Linked DNA regions of Homo sapiens. The protein of the gene in region 1 interacts with the protein of each later gene in a biochemical or structural test. Each region holds a gene or a part of one and is shown on either strand. Other genes may lie near its edges.

Region 1 (8,214 bases):
CTTTGGGAGGCCGAGGCAGGCGGATCACAAGGTCAGGAGATCGAGACCATCCTGGCTAACATGGTGAAACCCTGTCTCTACTAAAAGTACAAAAAATTAGCCAGTCGTGGTGGCGGGCGCCTGTAGTCCCAGCTACTCCGGAGGCTGAAGTAGGAGAATGGCGTGAACCCGGGAGGCGGAGCTTGCAGTGAGCCAAGATCGCGCCACTGCACTCCAGCCTGGGCGACAAAGCATGTCTCTGTATCAAAAAATAAAATAAAATAATAATAATAATTAGTAGTGATTTCATGTGATTATTATCCATGCGTAATTTCTCTAGTGTCTTTTGTGCCCTTATAATACTGGGGTCTTAACTTACCCAGGCATTGACTTGCCTTTCATAGACCATGGACTCCAGAGATTTGGATTATTATTTCTAATCTCAACCCTGAGGGAAAGCTATTTTAACATATTCTATCCTATGAAGATAAAGTTGATCATGGTTTTTTTTTTTTTTTTTTTTTTTTTTTTTTTTGAGACAGAGTCTTGCTCTGTCACCAGGCTGGAGTGCAGTGGTGCGATCTCAGCTCACTGCAACCTCTGCCTCCTGGGTTCAAGCAATTCCACTGCCTCAGCCTCCCCAGTAGCTGGGACTATAGGCGTGCACCACCACACCCAGCTAATTTTTTGTATTTTAGTAGAGACGGGGTTTCACCATGTTGGCCAGGATGCTCTCGATCTCCTGACCTCGTGATCCACCTGCCTCGGCCTCCCAAAGTGCTGGGATTACAGGCATGAGCCACCGCGCCTGGCCACTAAGTTGATCATGTTTTATTTAGGTTTTTGGTTTCTAGGATGGAGGGAAGACCTGGAGTATGTTCAATTATTGGATAGTCTTATATGTGATTTTTTTTAATTGCAGTAAAATGTACATAATATTTACAATTTTAACTATTTGTGAGTGTGCAGTCTAGTGACAGTAAGTATATTAATAATGTGAGACTATCACCAGAACTCATTTCCAGAATTTTTTCATTATTCAAAACAGAAGCTGTATACCCTTAAGTGATAACTCCCCATCCCTGTTTCTGCCCAGCCAATGATAACCTCTATTTTCTGTGTCAGTGAATTTGACTATTCTAGATACCTCATATGAGTAGAATAATATTATATTTTGTCCTTTCATGTGTGTGTGTGAGGTCTCACTCTGTCACCTCTGCTGGAGTACAGTGGCACAATCATAACTCACTGCAGCCTCAAACTCCCGGGCTCTGATTATTCTCCCACCTCAGCCTACCAAGTAGGTGGGACTGCAAGTGTGTGCCACTATGCCTGGCTACTTTTTTTTTTTTTTTTTTTTTTTTTTTTTTGAGACAGAGTCTCACTCTGTCACCCAGGCTGGAGTGCAGTGGTGCAATCTTGACTCACTGCAACCTTTATCTCCCAGGTTCAGGTGATTCTTATGCCTTAACCTCCCTAGTAGCTGGGATTACAGACGTGTGCTACCATGCCTGGTGAATTTTTTTGTATTTTTAGTAGAGACGGAGTTTCACCATGTTGGCCAGGCTGGTCTTAAACTCCTGGCCTCATGTGATCTGCCCACCTCAACCTAATTTTTTTGTATATTTTGTAGAATCAGGGTTTTGCCATGTTGCCCAGGCTGGTCTCAAACTCCTGGGTTCAAGAGATCCATCTGCTTCAGCCTCCCATAGTGCTGGGGTTACAGGTGTGAGCCACTGCGTCCAGCCTATATTTTCATTTAGCGTAATGTCTTCAAAGTTCATCTATGTCATAGCATGTATTAGAATTTCATTTCTTTTGTATGTATATATCATATTTTGTTTATCCATTCATCTGTTGATGGACATTTTGAGTTGTTTCCAACCTTTTGGCCATTGTGAGTAATGCCGTTATGAACATAGGTGTACAAAATCTGCTTGAGTCCTTGCTTTTATTTTATTTTGTGTATTTTTTTTTTCCAAGATGGAGTCTTTGCCCTGTCACCCAGGCTGGAGTGCAGTGGAACGATCACAGCTCACTGCAACTTCCACCTCCCTGGTTCAAGCAGTTCTCCTGCCTCAGCCTCCCAAGTAGCTGGGATTACAGGCACATGCTACCATGCCCGGCTAATTTTTGTATTTTTAGTAGAGATGGGGTTTCAACATGTTGGCCAGGCTGCTCTCGAACTCCTGACCTCGTGATCTGCTGGCCTCGGCCTCCCGAAGTACTGGGATTACAGGCGTGAGCTACTGCGCCCGGCCCCTGCTTTTAATTCTTTTGGGTATATATTCAGAAGTAGAATTGCTTGATTACATGATAATTCTACATTTAATTTTTTGAGGAACTGCCATGCTATTATCCATAGAATGCCTCTGCACCCTTTTACATTCCCACCAGCAATGCACAAACACTTGTTATTTCTTATAATGGCTATCCTAATGGGTATAAAGAAGTATCTCTTGCAATTTTCATATGCATTTCCATAATGATTACTTTGTTGAGCATCTTTTGATGTGCTTATGGGCCATTTGTATATCTTCTTTGGAGAAATGTCTATTCATGTCCCTTTTGATTGTTATTGTTGTTGTTACTGAGTTGTAGGAGTTCCTTATATATTCTGATATTAATCTCTCATCAAATATAAGACTTGCAAATGTTTTCTCCCATTTTGTGGGTTGCCTTTTCATTCCCTTAATGGTGTTCTTTGATGCACAAAAGTTTTCCATTTTGATGAAGACCAATTTATCTGTTTTTTTCTTTCGTTACCTGTGCTTTTGGTGGCATTATCCAAATCCAGTGTCATGAATTTTTTCCCTTATCTTTTCTTCTAAGAGTTTTATAGTTTTAGCTCTTACATTTAGAACTTTGATATATTTTGAATAGTTTTTAATGTTGTCAATATACTTGACAGGACAATGGAAACTTGGTGGACAGTGAAATGAAATATTTGGGCAGTCCCATTACTACTGTTCCAAAATTGGATAAAAATCCAAACCTAGGAGAAGACCAGGCAGAAGAGATTTCAGATGAATTAATGGAGTTTTCCCTGAAAGATCAAGAAGCAAAGGTAAAGTGTTCTGTGGTAGTATCTTTGTATTCTTCATATTCCTTCATTCTGTTAAAAGAAGAACTAGACAAATTAAACTTAGGAGAGTTTATTTGAGCAAAAAAATAACTAGTGAATCCAGCAACCCTCATAGCCAGAACATGTTCAGTAAAACTCCAGTTTGCCATGTGGTCAGGCAGTATTATGGACAGAAAATGGAAATGAAGTACAGAAAATAGAAGTGAGGTACAGAGACAGCCCAGTTGGTTGCAGCCTTGAGTTTGCCTTATTTGAACATGGTTTAAACAGTTGATTGCTTGTGGTTGACTGAAGCTCAGCTGCTGTGCTTTCCTGAGACTCAGCTTTTTGATACAAAAGTATACTTCTAAATTAGGCTTTCAGTTAGTTTAAGTACTAAGTTAGGTTGCAACTTGGTATATAAAGACTCAAGTACAGAGGCATCCCCAGGCCAAATTTAGTTTAATTAAGAATTCATTCTTCTTTTTTTTGTTGTTTGTTTTTTTTAAGACAGATTCTCGCTCTGTCGCCTAGGCTGGAGTGCAGTGGCGCCATCTTGGCTCACTGCGACCTCCTCTTCCCAGGTTCAAGCGATTCTCCTGCCTCAGCCTCTCGAGTAGCTGGGATTACAGGTGTGCACCACCACACCCGGGTAATTTTTAGTATTTTTAGTAGAGACAGGGTTTCACCATGTTGGCCAGGCTGGTCTTAAACTCCTGGCCTCAGGTGATCTACCCACCTCAGGCTTCCAAAGTGCTGGGATTGCAAGCGTGAGCCACCATGCCCAGCCAACAATTCATTCTTGAATAAACATTTTATGCCTGATATGTATGAGTCACTCTACTAAATGCTAGAGCTACAGAGATCAACAAGATGTGATAACCTATCTTTATTTATTTATTTATTTTTGAGATGGAGTCTTGCTGTGTCACCTAGGCTGGAGTGCAGTGGTGGTATCTCAGCTCACTGCAACCTCCGTCTCCTGGGTTTAAGTGATTCTCTTGCCTCAGCCTCCCAAAGCACGCCATCATGCCTGGCTAATTTTTTGTAATTTTAGTAGAGACGGGGTTTTGCCATGTTGGCCAGACTGGTCTCGAACTCCTGACCTCAAGTGATCTGCCCGCCTTGGCCTCCCAAAGAGCTGGGATTACAGGCATGAGCCACCACGCCTGGCGTAACCTATCTTTAGACTGTAGGGTTACCTGACTGATAGGTTATCAGGTCACTACAGAAATCTTCTTACTGCTGGTGAACAGGTTCCAGTCAATAGTTTGAGTGGATCACCATCAAAGTAATCTAGGATAAGTAATGTCTCCAGGATAATGGTAATGTATAAATGTATAGAATATACCTAACATTACTTTTCAGGTATTTTATAATACAGTCTTTTGTTTCCTTTTTTCTTTCCCATATCACTGATAGATATACCTGAAGCATGTGGGTTATAGCCTATATGCTGATATGCCAAAGATAGTTTCTGAGGCATTTAGCTTTTTTTGGTTTTTGGTTTTTGGTTTTTTTTTTTTTTTTTTTTTTTTTAGATAGACAGGGTCTTTCTCTGTAGCCCAGGCTGGGGTACGTGGCACAATTAAAGTTCACTGCAGCCTCAATCTCCCCAGGCTCTGGCAGTCCTCCCACCTCAGCCTCCAAGTAGCTGGGACTATAGGCACATGCCATCATACCTGGCTAATTTTTTGTATTTTTTGTAGCGATGTGGTTTCACAATATTGCCCAGGCTAGTCTCAAACTCCTGGACTCAAGTGATTCACACACCTTGGCCTCCCAAAGTGCTGGGATTACAGGCATGAGCTACCATGCCTGGCCTACATTTAGCATTTCTAAATCAGCTTTGTTGCTTTGAAACAAGTAGGGCTATGGGTTTGTCTTTAAAATTTATTCATTTCACAAGGCCAGTATGGTATAGTGGAGTTAGAACAGTTGCATTCTAGTCCTCATGCTTTTATTTTTTTTAATTATTTAATTAATTAGATAGGGTCTTGCTCTGCTCTGTCACCCAGACTGGAGTGCAGTGTTGAACTCCTGGGCTCAAGTAATCCTCCCACCTCAGCCTCCTGAGTAGCTAGGACTATAGGTGCATACCACCATGCCCAGCTAATTTTTAAAATTTTTTGTAGAGATGGGGTCTTGATGTGTTGCCCAAGCTGGTTTGGAACTCCTGCGCTCCAGCAATCCTCTTGCCTTTGTTGCGGGATCTTTAGGGTGTTGCTTTTCTGGCCAGAAACCTTTCTGCCCAGTGGTGCCTTTGCCTGAGTTGTTGTCCTGCGTCGAGGTAAGCAGACAAGTAGAGGGTTAGCAAGACGAAGAGAAGCTTTATTGAGTGTTAGAACAGCTCAGAGGAGACCCACAGGGGGCAGCTCCTCTCTGTAGGCAGTTTGTCTTATCCCGTATTCAGCTCTCAGCAGAGAGGAGGCCCTGGAGTGGGTGGCTCCTCTCTGCAGGCAGGTCCTCCCTGTTGATTTCCCAGCTTTCAGCAGACAGCATAGCTCCTCTCTCCTCTTTGGTTGTCTGATCTTTTCTCCATCCTCTACCCTGCTCTGGCTGAGCCTGGGCCTTTTATGGACCTCAGAGGGGAGAAAGTGCTTCCTGATTGGTTCATGGACTGTGAGAAAAGGCAGCACAAATCCCCATCCAGTGGGTGGGACTAGCAGCCCGGTCCCCAGCCTTTAAGCCCTCCCCGTCCTGAAGGTGGGGACTTACAGGAACCTCCCTTCTACCCAGGAGCCTGTCTGTCTCTCTCAGCAGTCCATGGCACCAGGCTGCTCACACCAAGGTGCACCTAAAGGCCAGCACTGACCACCCTCAGTCCCTACTTGGCTTCCCCTCTTTTGCTTCTCCGTGCCCAAATTCTAGAGGGGGTCAAGGTGGCAGGGTGCTGCCCTGAGGGTGCACACACAGATCCGCCCCCGGACTGTAACAGCACCTGGACTTGCCCCAACCCCACTCTGAGATTGGAGTGGGTGCCAAGAGCAGAGAGAAGTGGGGATATGGGGGTGGTGGGGAGGCCTTCCTGGGCCCCCAAGGGTGCAGGCTGCAGAGACTATTAGGTCCTGCACCTGGGAGGGCAGCTGCAGCTGCACCCGGGAAGGCAGGGATCCTGCCTGCTCCCGGCCCCCACAAGACCACAGGGAGGCTCGGATCTGCAGCCACAACTTGGGCGGCTGCAAGCCCACCCAGGAGGGCAGGGCTTCTGCCTGCTCCGTGGAACAGGAGGCCCAGGTTAACAGCTGCAGTTTGTGTAGCTCCAGCAGCACCAGGGGAGCTCCTGCCCCAACTCAGAAGGGGAAGGGCTCCCGCTAGCTCCATGGATCATGCAGCCCTATCCATACCTCTCTGCTGCAGCCAGTTTGATGACAGCAGCAAGCCCTCTGGAGTTGCAGCTGCCAACACCTTGGCCTCTCAAAGTGCTGGAATTACAAGTGTGAGCCACCGTATCCAGCCTCATTCTTTTATTTACTTGGTGGTATGACTGTTCACAAGACAACCACTTGACCTCAGTTTTTAATTTATAAAATGGAGAGCATGATAAAACAACTACCTCCTTAATAGGCTTGTTGTAAATAAAATATTAAAAGCAGTTTATGTCCTCATCACATACACACAAATGGTAACTGTGTGATGAAGGATGTGTTAATGAATTTCATTGTGGTAATCCTCATGTAATATATACGTAAATCATTATATTGTACTCCTTAAGTATATACAAATTTTATCATTTATACCTCCATAAAATAGAAAAAAAAATTTAAAGAGCAGTTTGTAATACAGTAGTCCTCTGTTATCCACAGAGAATACATTCTGAGACCCCCCAGTGGATGCCTAAAATTGCAGACAGTACTGAACCCTATATATACCATGCTTTTCCCTATGCATATGTACCTGTGATGGAGTTTTTTACTTAGGCATAGTAAGAGATTAACAATAATAACTAATAATAAAATAGAACAATTACAACAACATACTATAATAAAAATTATAGGAGGCTGGGCGTGGTGGTTTATGCCTGTAATCCCAGCACACTGGGAGGCCGAAGCGGGTGGTCAGGAGTTTGAGAGCTGCCTGGCCAACATGGTGAAACTCCATCTCTACTAAAAATACAAAAATTAGCTGGGCGTGGTGGTGAGCATCTGTAACCCCAGCTACTGGGCTGGCTGAGGCAGTAGAATCGCTTGAACTTAAACCCAGGTGGCAGAGGCTGCAGTGAGCCGAGATCGCACCGCTGTACTCCAGCCTGGGCAACAGAGTGAGACTCTAACTCAAAAAAAAAAAAAAAAAAAAGTGCTGGCTGGGCATGGTGAGTCAGGCCTGTAATCCCAGCACTTTAGGAGGTTGAGATGGGCAGATCACCTGAAGCCAGGAGTTTGAGACCAGCTTGGCCAACATGGTGAAACCCTGTCTCTATTAAAAATACCAAAAAAAAAAAAAAAATTAGCCAGGTGTGGTGGCGGGCACCTGTAATCCCAGCTACCCAGGAGGCTGAGGCAGGAGAATCGCTTGAACCTAGGAGGCAGAGGTTGCAGTGAGCCAAGATCGCTCCATTGCACTCCAGCCTGGGCAACAAGAGTGAAACTCTGTCTCAAAAAAAAAAAAAAAAAAAAAAGTGCTATAGGCTGGGAGCGGTGACTCACACCTGTAATCCCAGAACTTTGGGAGGTCAAGGTGGGTGGATCACCTGAGGTCAGGATTTCTAGACCAGCCTGGCCAACAGTATGAAACCTTGGCTCTACTAAAAATACAAAAATTAGCTGGGTGTGGTGGCAGGTGCCTGTAATGCCAGCTACTTGGGAGGCTTAGGCAGGAGAATCACTTGAACCCAGGAGGTGGAGGTTGCATTGAGCCAAGATCACACCGTTGCACTCTAGCCTGGGCAACAGAATGAGACTCCATCTCAAAAAAAAAAAAAGGTGCTATGAATGACAGGACGATTTGAATAAAGGACAGCACTTTGAGAGGCCAAGGCAGGTGGATCACCTGAGGTCAGGAGTTTGAGACCAGCCTGACCAACATGTTGAAGCCTCGTCTCTATTAAAAATACAAAAATTTAGCTGGGCATGGTGTTGGGCACCTGTAATCCCAGCTACTCAGGAGGCTGACACAGGAGAATTGCCTGAACCCAGGAGGCAGAGGTTGCAGTAAGCTGAGATTGTGCCGCT
Region 2 (7,758 bases), on another chromosome or scaffold:
TTGTTAGAGTGCATCCCTATAATTAAGCAACAAACGAGTGTATTTGCAACAAAGTATAGCACATATGAAAACTTTAAGTAAAAAGCCATCTAAGAGCAGATTCAAGTTGCTCTGAATATACACTCCCCAAAATATTTTTAAAAATCTATTGCAGAGTTCTGGGACTAAAGAGTTATTTTTTCCTTAATTTTTTACTTATAGTTACTATTTTATCTACAACGAACATGAATTATTTGTAAGTTTAAAACAAAAAAAAAAGTAAGAAAAAATTCAAATAGCACAAGACTTCATATCCAAGAAATCGGTACTCTTTCACTCAAGATAATTCAGTTACCTAGAGGAGCAGAATCGATTTTTTTCCAAGGGTTGAGGTATGTTTTTTTTTCTTTCCAGTCAGAATACTCCTGACAGCTGTCACTGGGTTGGTCCCATGGCAATTCTAAAAACAAAGCAAGTCCCAGTTTTTTTAAATGTTCTTATTATAAAGATTTCAAGGAAAAATAATAATATAAATCCATGAAAAGTTTCCTTTGAATTAATTCAATATGGTTTTCACACTAAGAATCCCAACTTGGAAACTTTAGAGGCACTTCAAAGATAGATGAATCAGGATAGGCATGGCAGCTCAGGCCTGTAATCACAGCACTTTGGGAGGCTGAGGCAGAAGGACTGCTTGAGCCCAGGAGTTCAAGACCAGCCTGGGCAACATAGTGAGACCCCATCTCTACAAAAAATAAATAAAATTAGCTGGGCGTGATGGTGTGCATCTGTAGTCCTGGCTCCTCAGGAGGCTAAAGTGAGAGGATCACTTGAACCCAAGAGGTCAAGACTGCAGTGAGCCAAGATCACACTGCTGCACTGCAGCCTGGGCGACAGAGCAAGACTTTGTCTCAAAAAAAAAAAAACCAAAAAACAGATGAATCATTTCTTGCCCTAGTCTTGTTTTCACAAATGTTTACATGATACACAGGAGAGATAAGTGTTGTGATATTTAATAACTATGCATGCCTTAGCTTAAAAAATCTTTGGGATTATAAATAAGTTACTATTTGCAATGTGCTAAATATTTGTATCCCCCTCAAAAGTCATGTTGATATCCTAACTCATAATGCAATGGCATTCGGAGGTGGGGCCTTTGAGACGTAATTAGGTCCTGGTGATGGGACCACTCAAAAAATGGTATTAGTGCTCTTATTAAGAGCTTATTAATGTCTAATAAGGGCTTGTGTGCCCGGACAATATTGTATCTTTATAGGGCACTAATTATATAATCCCAGCACTTTGGGAGGCTTAGGTAGGCAGATTACTTGAGCCCAGGAGTTTAAGACCAGCCTACGTAACATGGAGAGACCGTCTGTGAAAAAAAACCCACAACAAATTAGCCAGGTGTGGTGGTGCACGCCTGTAGACCCAGATACTGAGGAGACTGAGGCAGGAGGATCGCTTGAGCCTGGGAGCTCAAGGCTGCAGTGAGCCTTGAATTGTGCCACTGCACTCCAGCCTGGGCAATAGAGTGAGACCCTGTCTCAAAAAAAACCACAAAAAAACAAAAAACAGACACAATATCTCACAACATCTGGTCATTTAACAAAAAACCCAAAAAACAGCACTTTGGGAGGCTGAGGTTGGGGGATCACTTGAGGTCAGGAGTTTGAGACCAGTCTGGCCAACATGGTGAAACCCTGTCTCTACTCAAAATACAAAAATTAGCCGGGTGTGATGATGCATGCCTGTAATCCCAGCTACTTGGGAGCCTGGGACAGAATTGCTAGAACCTGGGAGGCAGAGGTTGCAGTGAGCTGAGATCACATCACTGTACTCCAGCGTGGGTGACAGAGCAAGACTCTGGTCTAAAAAAAAAAAAAAAAACCACAATAGAGCTTGCTTCTGCTCTCTTGGCTGTCCACCATGAGAGAGCACAGCAAGACAGCCATCTGCAAATCAGGAAGAGGGCCCTCACTAAAACATGACCAGGTTGGCACCCCTAATCTCATATTTTCAGCCTCCAGAACTGTGAGAAATAAATTTGCTGTTTATAAGCTATGCAGTCTATGATACTTTGTTACAGCAGTTACCAAACCGATCAAGACACTATTAAAATACTACTATAAAAGCTGGGTACCATGGCTCATGTCTTTACTTTAATCCTAACAGTTTGGAGACCAAGACAGAAGGCTTGCTTGAGACCAGGTGTTTAAGACCAGCCTGGACAACACAGCAAGATCCCATCTCTACAATGAATTTTTAAAACTTAGCCAGATGTCTTGTGGCAGGCACCACTGGTCCTAGCTACTTGGAAGAGTGAGGCCAGAGGATTGCTTGAGCCTAGAAGTTTGAGGCTGCAGTGAGCTATAACAGCTCACTGTACTCCAGTCTGGCCAAGAGTGAGACCCTGTCTCTTAAAAAAGAAAACAAAAACTATTATATAAACATGAATTCCTTGGTTTATTTCATTTATTTCAGTATAACTAATCTGACTTTTTATAGGAGTTTTACCATGATTAAATAGCTCTTACCTCCAGCGAGCATTGCAGTAAGTACTATTCCACAGGACCAAACATCAACTGGTTCTGCATGAAATTCTCTTCTCTTCAGAAGTTCTGGAGCAACATATGGTAAAGTACCACACATCTTGTTCAACAAACGCTCACGATTATTATACCGAAATACTGTTGCCAAGCCAAAGTCTGAGATTTTGAGGTTATCTAAACCAAAAGAAAAAAAGATGACACTGAATAAAAATGTTTTGCAAATAGATATACTTACAGGAATTAAGTTTTACTGAAAAAAAATCACTGGTGTTACTTAAGGTTTGTAGAACTTCTCTTAAAATAAGCAAAATAGACAAAAAGAAATTTAAAAAAATAAAATAAATCATCATCTATGCTAAAAGTAGAAAAAGGCCTCACCTCTTCTATTAACTTAAAAGAAGTATTATCAACACACAGAACAGTCTGGACCAGATTAAAGAAAGAGGCTGGAGTCAGAAGGGGCTGCCCTTCTGGAAAAGAGCACTCTAAACCTGAGATGAAAGTAAAGCAAGGCCCCTCATCAGGTAGGGTGGAGGGCAGGAAGGAAACATCAGTAGTATGTTAGGCACAACTTTCTCAGCAGCAAACAAACCCAGTTGGCAGAAGAAAATATGTGAAGACACACCAAAATTCAACAAACCACAGTAATTTTTTTCTTCAAAGTAGAGAGTCTGAGAAAAAGAGGACAAACTCTGTACAAAAAAAAAATATCAGAAGACCCAACTTCCACCCTAACTTCCCATCTTCAACACACAAAAACTGCAGGCAGGACTTAACTTATGTTTAGTGAATATCTACTGTAACTTAGTGACAGACACTATGCCAGCCAATGCAGGTAATAGATAAATTAGTGAAGACTGACAATAGAAAACTGTTATGAAGGTTATAAAAATATAGAGCACTATAGGATCTTAGAGCAAAGGAATGTAACCCAGTCTTAAGAGTTAGAAAAGGCCCTCTATTATCAGAGGGCAATTTGGCAAAACATACTAAACTGTGAAACATTCACTCTTTGAACTAGCAATTCCCACTTCTATATCCATAGAAATAATCCCACAAATTCATAAACATAAGAATATTCATAGCAATATTATTTGTAAATAAATGTCCAAATTTGTACAATGGAAAATGTGGAGGTAGGTTTTGAAAACAATCAACAAGGTATATCTATACATACTAACATGAAATAGTGTGTAAGTGGGACAAAAAGGCTAATGGCATAAAAAATATTATAGCATAAAAAATATTATAGCATGACGCAATTTTTATATTGGCCTTTTACACAAATTGATAGAAGCCATCACTGTCCTATTTTATAAGTTAGAAACAACTTAAATGTCTCAAAATAGGGGACTGATTTCTTTAAAAATCAAGTACATTCACACAATATGTAAACCAATGAAATGTTTACCTCTATCTGACTTAGGAGGTAGCTACTGTGATTACCCTTTTTTTTTTTTTTTTTTTTTTTTTTTGAGAAAGTGTCTCACTCTGCTGCCCAGACTAGAGTGTAGTGATGTGATCACAGCTTACTGCAGCCTTGACCTCCTAGGCTGAAGTGATCAATCCTCCTGCTTCAGCCTTCCAAGTAGCTGGGACTCCAGGTGTGCACCACCATGTCTAGCTAATTTTTTTTTTTAATTTTTCATAAAGACAGGGTCTATGTTGTCTAGGCTGGTCTCAAACTCCTAGAATCACTCAATCGTCCCACCTCAGCCTCTGGGATTACAGGCATGAGCTACTGCACCCAGTTGATTATCTTTTCAGTAGTTAAATATGACACTATTGGACAAACCACTGAGATTGAGTTTCAAATTACTTATGAGTAGTAATCACTTAAAATACTAATGGATAACTATAGTATTCCTTGGACTTTGTTATGTCTGCAACATAATACTCAGCTATGTTAGAGAACTGCACATAATAAAATTTAAATGTAGGAATGTGTTTAGCTCTTAGAAAAACAAAGGAAGAATATATTTGTGATGAAATAAACAGGAGGACATTAAATACTGGTAACATTTTATTTCTTTTTTTAAAAGACTCCTAAATATTAAATAGAAACAAAGAATTATATCTTGTATATTAATACAAGATATAAAGAATAACAATGTAATAAACACCCACTCACTTTAGAAAAACAATGCTCTATTTCCTTTGAAATCTTTAAATACTTCCTTAAATACATTCCCTCCCCTACTTTCTTAGACCATTCTGAATTTGGTTTTATTATACCCTTGCTTTTCTGCATGTTTTTTTCTCCATGTTTACATACTTGAACAATATACTAGGTTTTACATATTTTTGAACTTTGTATAAACAGAATCAGACCATATGAATTCTTTTGCAACTGTCTCTTTTTGCTCTACATCATTATATACCTGAAATTCATCCATGTCACTGCTTGTGACATGCTTGTGTCACTGCTTGTGACATGGCTTGAAAAGCCATGCATTTCATAATTTATTGTTGACAGACATTTGGGTTAGTTTCCTGCTATATTAAAAACATCACCACTGTGAGCATTCTTATATACGAATAATGTTGTATTTTTAAACCAGGTGGGTTGATATACATATATTTACATTTCATTATAATACATAAGAATTTTTGTGTACCTGAATTTTTAAAGTTTTAAATAAAAATAAAGATTTTTATGTCATATAAACTCAGTTTAAAGGGGTAAAAAGTAAAATCCATATGCACATAAGAAAAAAGCATGTATAGGCTGGGTACAGCGGCTCACACCTATAATCCCAGCACTCTGGGAGGCCAAGGGAGGCAGATCACTTGAGGCCAGGAGCTCGAGACCAGCCTGGCCAATATGACAAAACCCCATCTCTACTAAAAATATAAAAATGAGCCAGGTGTGGTGACTCAGGCTTGTAATCCCAGCTACTCAGGGGCCTAAGGCACAAGAATCACCTGAACCAGAGAGGTAGAGGTTACAGTGAGCCGAGATCATGTCACTACACTCCAGCCTGGGCAACACAGCAAGACTCTGTTTCAAAAAAAAAAAAAAGCTGACCATTTGTTAAGCACTATTCTAATACTAAGAATAAAGCATTAAACCAGACAAAAACTACTGCCTCATACAGCTGACATTTCTTTTTTGATTCTGACCCTGTAAGCTTAAAGCTTTCGCTATCCATCCTTCTCAATTTGATGACATTCAGAAAATATAACTAAATTTCTTACATTTTTATCCACGTCATACATAAAAAAAGAGTGAACAGGACAAGACTAAGGTCCAGGGTATTCCACAGGAACTTCCCTTTATTAATCCATTAAAGGATTATTTTAAACTATTCTTGGCCAGGCATGGTGGCTCACGTCTATAATCCCAACACTCTGGGAGGCTAAGGCTGGTAAACTGCTTGAGTCCAGGAGTTCAAGACTAGCCTGAGCAACACAGGAAGACTCCACCTCTTCAAAAAATCAAAAATTAGCCAGGCATGGTGGCACCTGCCTGTGGTTGGTCCTAGCTACTCGGGAAGCTGAGATGGTAGGATTGCTTGAGCCTAGGAGGTCAAGGCTGCAGTGAACTGTGATAATACAGTGCACCCCAGACTGGACAACACAGTGAGCCTGTATCAAAAAAAAAAAAATTATTCTTATACATATAGTGAGCTAGGCTTGCACCTAGGTCAGATTTCTCTACCTGATCCGCACTTGTATTGCAAAATGAGACTTGTGATTTCCAAATATACGAAGTCTCCAAAATTTCCTTGATTTTTCAGATCTTGTCTTGAAATTCCAGTAATGCAAAAAGACTTGATTTTGCCTTGTATGGCTATATTAAAATAATTAGGTAATTAAAATAATTTAGGTAATTATTTTATTTTATTTTAGGTAGTGATAAAATGCTAAACTTACCCCTTTCATCCAACAGAAGATTTTCTGGTTTAATATCCCTGTGAGTTATTCCAATACCATGCAGATAAACCTAAGAGGGATGCAGAGAGAAACACACTAGAATTTGGTAATGTAATGTATTCACTCTAATTTTAAGTAAAAGGGAAATAGACAACTATACCTACCACCCCTGCCATGAGTTGATGGAAGAATCTCTGAGCATCTGGTTCAGGCATGCCTATGTCTGGCTCTAAAACAAATATGAAAGTAAGTTTATTGACTAAATATAATCAGGTAGCAACCACATAGCTTCTTAATTTGAAGCTTAGACATTTACAAATGTGCTTAGGCAAACAGAAGCAAATGCCAACAAAAGATTCAGGAGTCCACTAACACATATGGGGCTTAACTCACATTTACCTGTGTTAGGTGGCAAAAGGCGTCATCACAGAAAAATTATAAAGAGAAAACCAATATCCAAATCAAGAATGCAAGCCATGACTTCAAAGCCTCTGCTTCCTCTTATACTAACCCTGATTTATTTAGTAACCTTGAAATTCCCCCCATTTCTTCTAAATGCTATGCTAATTATTTTTCTCATTCCTGAAATATAATGCCAAAGGGGAAGTCTGGGCAAATCTAAGCCAATTTCACTAAATATTTTACAGATTATACTTCTTTTATAATTTAACTTTTTTTAGAGATACGGTCTTGTTCTTTCACCCAGGCTGGAGTGCCCTGGCGTGAGATCATAACTTACTGTAACCTGGAACTCTTGAGCTCAAGCAATCCTCCTGCCTCCTAAGTAGCTAGGATTGCAGGCATGTACCACCACACCTGGCTCAGATTTAAACTTCATATAGTCTCACAGTACAAAACCACAAATGCCTGTGAGGTCCTTCGTGAAACAGTTTTATTATGAAAGTTCTTTTATCAGTTATCTTTTTATATTTTGATCTCTCTCATTAACTCCATTTCTTTTACCCTCAACTCTCTCCTGAGTCACACTGGAGATCCTAATACCTCTTTATCAGTTTTTAACTGATAAACTTATTTAATACAATAGCTTTAAATTATAAATTTAAATTATAAATTTAGATCCAGATTTTATGTACTTCTCAGTGTTCTGAAATATCAATCCTTTGATTCTACATCGAATATTTAAGTATTAATAGCAAACATAGAATTTACTTAATATACAAAAAGCAATCCTAGAAAATTCTCAATTATTTCATGTAAACCAAGAGGAAACAGCATGCTATTTTAGATCTGTAAATGTATAAAATGTATACAATGATTTCATGTAACTAGAATGTCTACAAAGAAAAAATTGTGTAGGCAATACATTGCATTTAGGATACACTGCATTTAT

What was found.
Region 2: of the proteins of CDC25C (region 1) and CHEK1, one has a biochemical effect on the other in vitro, tested with the Homo sapiens proteins (16 studies listed by BioGRID and IntAct, with this or other methods).

The regions. Positions count from the first base shown.
Region 1 is NC_000005.10:138,314,051-138,322,264, reverse strand, and holds part of CDC25C (M-phase inducer phosphatase 3), read left to right. Parts: intron 1-2,890; coding exon 2,891-3,046; intron 3,047-8,214. UniProt on the Homo sapiens protein: Functions as a dosage-dependent inducer in mitotic control. Tyrosine protein phosphatase required for progression of the cell cycle. When phosphorylated, highly effective in activating G2 cells into prophase.
Region 2 is NC_000011.10:125,628,110-125,635,867, reverse strand, and holds part of CHEK1 (serine/threonine-protein kinase Chk1), read right to left. Parts: intron 6,637-7,758; coding exon 6,572-6,636; intron 6,478-6,571; coding exon 6,408-6,477; intron 2,706-6,407; coding exon 2,517-2,705; intron 440-2,516; coding exon 335-439; intron 1-334. UniProt on the Homo sapiens protein: Serine/threonine-protein kinase which is required for checkpoint-mediated cell cycle arrest and activation of DNA repair in response to the presence of DNA damage or unreplicated DNA.